2 linked regions of the Homo sapiens genome follow. The protein of the gene in region 2 purifies or fractionates together with the protein of the main gene of each other region. This does not show direct contact. Each region holds a gene or a part of one and is shown on either strand. Other genes may lie near its edges.

The links. Proteins that work in one complex are often made in the same cells at the same time.
Region 1: the proteins of KIF25 (region 2) and DDX19B purify together in Homo sapiens (affinity purification with mass spectrometry; one large-scale study listed by BioGRID and IntAct). This does not show direct contact.

Annotation. Positions count from the first base shown.
Region 1 is NC_000016.10:70,312,686-70,316,185, reverse strand, and holds part of DDX19B (ATP-dependent RNA helicase DDX19B), read right to left. Parts: intron 1,285-3,500; coding exon 1,231-1,284; intron 547-1,230; exon of another isoform or gene 218-546; coding exon 82-217; exon of another isoform or gene 44-81; intron 1-43. UniProt on the Homo sapiens protein: ATP-dependent RNA helicase involved in mRNA export from the nucleus.
Region 2 is NC_000006.12:168,004,171-168,007,670, reverse strand, and holds part of KIF25 (kinesin-like protein KIF25), read right to left. Parts: intron 1-3,500. UniProt on the Homo sapiens protein: Minus-end microtubule-dependent motor protein. Acts as a negative regulator of centrosome separation required to prevent premature centrosome separation during interphase.

The DNA.
Region 1 (3,500 bases), on a different chromosome or scaffold from region 2:
TGGTCAAAAGATATCTATAACAGACCTAGGATCTCTATTTCAGTGCAAAGGGGAAGAGTCAGAAGGTGAATAAATACTCACAGCCGAAGCTCTTCAAAAGACTTCACCGAGTACAGAGGGGAGTTTGGATCCCGCTGCAGGACTTCCACTTGGTTTGTGTTATCAACAAGGTTGCTTCTGATCAGCTTGTTGAGTAAGGACTGGGCAGCTCTGTCCTCTGTCAGGAAAAAGAAAGCAAAGAATTTTAAAAAGTCCTTGAAACCTACCAGGCGTTTACTCTAATTCAACTGCCATTTGTATTTTAAATAATAATGTACTGAACATTCAAATTCAAGGTACGTCATAGTTTTGACTTATAAATTAAAATAGTTTTATTAAAGAAAAAAGTTATGATACATCACCCATTTAGGCCTCATATTCTTTTCCAGACTCTATTCTAACAGCCCTCTTTTCCTGCAGTTATCTATTCCTCCTATCCAGACCCACATATTTACTCCCCAATTTGTACTATATATAAACCTAAAGTAATTAATGTAGCAATCACAACAATAAAAAAAAAAACAGGAATTAACAAAGTCTGTACCTTAATATTGGACAAGTTGGTCTCGTCATCCATGTCAAATGTGTCAAAATAACATTAAGCTTAATTTTACTGGACAATAGAGATGCAACTGAAAATTTTTTATAATGCCCTATTCAACTGTTCAGTTGTTAAATGTAAAATTTCTCTAAACGTAAACCATTAGAACTCCTTCACCTACTGACTATTTATATTGAACTTTTTTTTTTTTTTTTTTTTGAGACAGAGTCTCGCTCTTTCGCCCAGGCTAGAGTGCAGTGGCTCGATCTCGGCTCATGGCAAGCTCTGCTTCCCGGGTTCATGCCATTCTTCTGCCTCAGCATCCCAAGTAGCTGGGACTACAGGCGTCTGCCACCATGCCCGGCTAATTTTTTTTTTTTTTTTTGTATTTTTAGTGGAGACGGGTTTTCACCGTGTTAGCCAGGATGGTCTCGATCTCCTGACCTCGTGATCTGCCCACCTCGGCCTCCCAAAGTGCTGGGATTACAGGTGTAAGCCACCGTGCCCGGCCCCTATATTGAACCTTTATGCTAGCACTGTATCGCCTATTAAAGTCAAGCCAAACTGGGTATAAAAATGAAGCCTCATAACAATCCACTTTCTTAGAATGTAGAAGCTTGTTATTATATAAAGCTCCACGGCTGTGTTACCTTTCTCTTCTTCATCTGTCTTCTCTGCATTGGCATTGGTCTTGACAACAGCACCTTTATAGACACAAAGTGGCCATCATTCAAAATCGCATCCCATACCCAACAGTTGAGACAATTCAAATTCTATGACACTAGAAGTTTTTGTAAAGGCCTGGGGAGCAAAAAATAAATGAGGAAACCGAGCCGCTGATAAAAACATTTTATTGTCCCTAAATAAACAAAGGTGTAAAACACTGTTGCTCACATATATATATATATAGATAGATATTTATTTTATTATTTATTTATTTTTGAGATGGAGTCTCGCTCTGTCGCCCAGGCTGGAGTGCAGTGGTGCGATCTCAACTCACTACAAGCTCTGCCTCCCAGGTTCACGCCATTCTCTTGCCTCAGCCTCCCGAGTAGCTGGGATTACAGGCACCCGCCACCACGCCCAGCTAATTTTTTTTGTATTTTTAGTAGAGACAGGGTTTCACCATGTTAGCCAGGCTGGTCTTGATCTCTTGACCTCGTGATCCGCCTGCCTTGGCCTCCCAAAGTGCTGGGATTACAGGCGTGAGCTACCGCGCCCGGCCTCTGTTGCTCATATTCTTTCCTATTCTAGGTCTCCTCTCCGTACCTCAAAACCTGTTATTTCCCTCATTGAATCAATACTTCTTAAATATTATAGAAAGATTAGAGCAATTAGTGATCAGAAACCACCTTGATGCTCAACAGAGGAATATCTATGCAAATCGTATTTTATCAATAGGTGAACACAATAATGCCATTAAAATTCATGTATATAACAAATGAGCAGTAAGACCAACAAAAAAAATTCATGCATATAAATTTTTTTTTTCTTTTTTTGAGATGCAGTCTCACTCTTACCCAGCCTGGAGTGCAGTGGTGCGATCTCAGCTCACTGCAACCTCTGCCTCCCAGGTTCAAGAGATTCCACTGTTTCAGTATCCTGAGTAGCTGGGATTACAGGGGTGCACCACCACACCTGGCAAATGTTTGTATTTTTAGTAGAGATGGGGTTTCACCATGTTAGTCAGGCTGGTTTCAAACTCCTGACCTCAGGTTATCCGCCAGCCTTGGCTTCCCAAAGTGCTGGGATTACAGGTGTGAGCCACCACACCCGGCCTATAAATTGATTAATATAAATTTATAGTCGAATGATACTGTGGTTATATAAAATCATACAAAAAAGATTTAAGTGAATTTTGAGAAAGGCAAATGTTACATTTCCTTCCTGTAATATTAAGTACATCAACAATAATTTAATGGAAATCTTAACTTTGGATAAATATGATTTCAGAATAATTAGGATAGGTAAACTGTCAGATTGCTCATACTTTGTCTATCTCATCCCAAATTGAGAACATTAAGAAAAAAATTAGTCTTTGTCAATGTAGTCCGATGGTTAGTAATTAGTCCCACTTAAGTAGCCTCATTCTTTGTTCCCCCCACACCCTTGCTATCAGTGTGCAATCCTCATTCTTGTATTAAAAACACTTTGAAACCAGGTGTAATATCTCACTCCTGTAATCCCAGCACTTTGGGAGGCTGAGGCGGGAGGACTGCTTGAGCCTAGGAGTTAGAAACCAACCTGGGCAACACAGGGAGTCCTCATCTCTATAAAAAAACAAAAATACCTGGGCACAGTGGCTCACACCTATAATCCCAGCACTTTGGGAGGCCAAGGCCGGTGGATCATGAGGTCAGGAGATTGAGACCATCCTGGCTAACACAGTGAAACCCCATCTCTACTAAAAATACAAAACATTAGCCAGGCGTGGTGGCAGGTGCCTGTAGTCCCAGCTACCCGGGAGGCTGAGGCAGGAGAATGGTGTGAAGCCGGGAGGTGGAGCTTACAGTGAGCCGAGATCGAGCCACTGCACTCCAGCCTGGGCAACAGAGCGAGACTCTGTCTCAAAAAAATAAAAAATAAAAAATAAAAATTAGTTGGGCGTAGTGGGTTGTGCCTGTAGTCCCAGCTACTCAGGAGGCTGAGGTGGAGGATCACTTGAGTCTGGGAGGTTGAGGCTCCAGTGAACCATGATTGAACCACTGCACTCCAGCCTGGGCAACAGAGCAAGACCCTGTCTCTTAAAAAGTAAACAGAAACAAAAAAATAAATAAAAACACTTTGGTCATACAATCCAGTTTGTTGATTTACAAATCAAATGGTACCAGTATCTGCCAATGCCCTGCCTGGTACAAATACAAATTTTTTTCCAGACAGTTGTTATGCCAAAACAAAAATACTGAAGGAAATCACATTT
Region 2 (3,500 bases):
TTGCACAATTCTTTCCTGAGAAGCAGCTGCAGACCTCCAGCTATTTTCGGCCAGCTTATACAGACTGTGCACAAACTGTGTGTCCTGGAGTTCACCTTTTAACAGAGAGAGCTGGAGACTGTCTCTTCTCAGTTTGCAAACTGATATCACTGATAAAATCCCCCTTTCTACTCTTTAGCCATCCTGGTAGTCATTACCATTGACTGTGGTAATCATTTTACTGATTGTATGGTTTTGTGTTTGTTTTTGTTTTTGTTTTGAGATGGAGTCTCATTCTTGTTGCCCAGGCTGGAGTGCAATGATTCAATCTCAGCTCACTGCAGCCTCTGCCTCCCGGATTCAAGCGATCTCCTACCTCAGCCTCCCAAGTAGCTGGGACTACAGGCGCCCACCACCACGCCCAGCTAATTTTTTGTATTTTTAGTAGAGACAGGGTTTCACCATGTTGGCCAGGCTGGTGTCGAACTCCTGGCCTCAGGTGATCCATCTGCCTTGGCCTCCCAAAGTGCTAGGATTACAAGTGTGAGCCACCATGCTCAGTTGTAAAACTGATTACCACATGTGTCATCCAAAGATGGATGGTAATCATATACATCTGTATATTAAATTATCATGTTGTAGATGTCGAATGTATACAATTTTTGTCGATTTTACCTAAATAAAGCTGAATCAATCAATCAATCAATAATACTTTAAAATAAAGAATTGTAAAAGTTTTTCTTTCTGGGGACATAGTAAGAGCAATTTTAAAGTATGGCTATAACAATTTTCTTGGCCTTTTTAAAAAGTATAAGGCTATCAGTCCGTTAACTAAAACTACCTTTTGAAAAAGAGTTTCTAAAGTTTACAATACGTAACCATCATCAGACTGATTCAGGTGACGGGCCTTGTAGAACCGCATATGGTAATCAACGTGACACAAAATCATCTTCAAAATGGCCATTGTGTCCTACATGACCTGAGATTTTCCTGAATTCAAAATTATCAATGTTAGTGAAGTGTTTAGCATTTCATGTGCTTTCTAAATTCATCTTGTGATCACCATAATAAGCTGAATGAAGGAGAGGCCCAGCATTTTTTTAACTGTTCTCACTGGGGACTTTGTAACGTACACAGAAATGGGGGAAACAGCACAAGACGTCCTCAGGTGCAATCGCCCGGTGCCACAAGTGTGGAATATCCGGCCAGTCTTGTTTCACAGACACTCCTGCAAAACCCACCTCCCTTTCCTCAGCATACTGTACATTCAAAACCAGACAACAGATCGTTGTATTGCTGAGTATTACAGGCTGCATTTTTAAATGATAAGAACACTTTTAAAGCACAATTTGCCCGGTGTGGTGGCTCACGCCTACAATCCTAGCACTTTGGGAGGCCAAAGCAGGAGGATCACATAAGCCAGGAGTTCAAGACTAGCCTGGGCAACATAGTGAGACCCCCCCATCGCTAAAAAAAAAAAAAAGAAATAGAATACAATCACCATGCCATTCATCACACTTTACAAAATTAATGTCACATGGAGAGTGGCAGAACATGTCACCCCAAAATATGCCACTTTGGCATCAGGATTATCTTTACTTAAAGGTTCCTGAGAAGCAGGAGGCTCATGCAGAGCACTCCAGCTTCCCCTCTTCCTCCTGCACTGAAGGCAGGACCTGACCCTCCCATGAGAGCCGCCCTTGCTGGGCCAGGAACAAAGCATGTTCTCGTCAGTAGATGGGGTCTGTGATGGTTAATACCGAGCGTCAACTTGATCAGCGGATTAAAGGATACAAAGTATTGATCTTGGGTGTGGCTGTGAGGCTGTTGCCAAAGGAAATTAACATTGGAGTCAGTGGGGTGAGAAAGGCAGACCCGCCCTTAATCTGGGTGGGCACCGTCTAATCAGCCGCCAGCAAATATAAAGCAGGCAGAAAAATGTGAAGAGAGAGACTGGCCTAGCCTCCCAGCCTACATCCTTCTCCCGTGCTGGATGCTTCCTACCCTCGAACATCGGACTCCAAGTTCTTCAGCTTTGGATCTCGGACTGGCTCTCCTTGCTCCTCAGCGTGCAGATGGCTGTTGTGGGACCTTGTGATCGTGTGAGTTAATACCTAATAAACTCTCCTCTACATATGTATCTATTCCATTCGTTCTGTCCCTCTAGAGATCCCTGGCTAATACAGGGTCGAAGCTGAGCAGCTCTGCACAGACAGACCTGTTAGCACAGCCCTCGCCTTCCCTCTGTCTCCCATCTCATTTGGTTGCTTGTCCACAGTGGCCTCTGCCCAACCCCGCAGGGCAGCGTGCAGGCTGTGCCACTCCTCAACTCTTCATTTTCCGGGGGGCTCTGTGTCAGGTAGACCCCACATTCAACAAATCCGATGCTCTTCCCCGTCAACCTGCCTTAGGCCAATTCCATTCTCAGGCTCCACCAGGGACCCTAGGAGGATAGAGGAGAAGGTTTGCCCCCCTATATACCCAGGACACATTCGGACTTCCCCCACTGTCCCAACAATGCCTGTGACAGTCAGCTCGTGCATGCCAGGCTTGCCTGTGACAGTCGGCTCGTGCACGCCAAGCTCGCCTGTGACAGGTGGCTCGTGCACACCAGGCTCCAAACCAGGACACACTGAGGCTGACACGTCTCATTCTACTGTGTCCTCCTGCCTTTAAAAACAAAAGTTATTACTAGAGAAGCCAGGCAGTCTGTTCTGTGAAATGTCCGCATTCTGGCTTGGCAGATGGTTTTCTCTCCTTTAAAATGACTGTCCCCAAGACTTGATTAGATGCTGGTTTGATTTTGAAGCAAAAGTGCTTCATCAGTCCCACTGTGTCCCACCTGCTGCACCACCTCGGGACATCATGTCTCTGCATCCCAACTTCAGGGAAGCTGCGAGTGCTTAGAGGGTTTGAGGCAACCCTGAACCCTCGTCGTGAAGATCCTATCAACCCCTGAGCAGCGTCCACTCAGGAGAAAGTGCTTAGAGGGTTTGAGGCAACCCTGAACCCTCATCGTGACGATCCCATCAACCCCTGACCAGCATCCTCTGAGGGCCTAGAGTCACCATTTCATTGGGGGTTTCAAATGATGGTTTTCCAGTTTTATCATTTGTTGAGTTTATTACCTAGAATCTTCTGTTCCCTCAAAAACCATGCATCTGCCCTGAGTATGTTTCCTACAGGAAGGACATCACAACCCTTTTCTCTTTCTATCACTTTTTGGAATAATGAGTTGATGTTCTAGCACCCAAAAAATTAATGTGAGGTCTTTTTAAAAACTCATTATTATGAACTCAAGATTGTACATATAATTATATATTTCAATCTGCTTTAGTCCCTCCTTAATCCCCAGGCTTCTATCCCGCGTTGAGGGAGTGCCTGCCGTGGGCTCCATGTGCTGGGACAGCCCCCGTTCTGTTCTGAGGCCTCCCTTGCTGTTCAGCTCCCCAAGTGCCCCAGGCTCCTCCCACCCACTTCCTTTCCTGGCCCAGATGCGAGGTGTCAAATGAGCTTTTCTC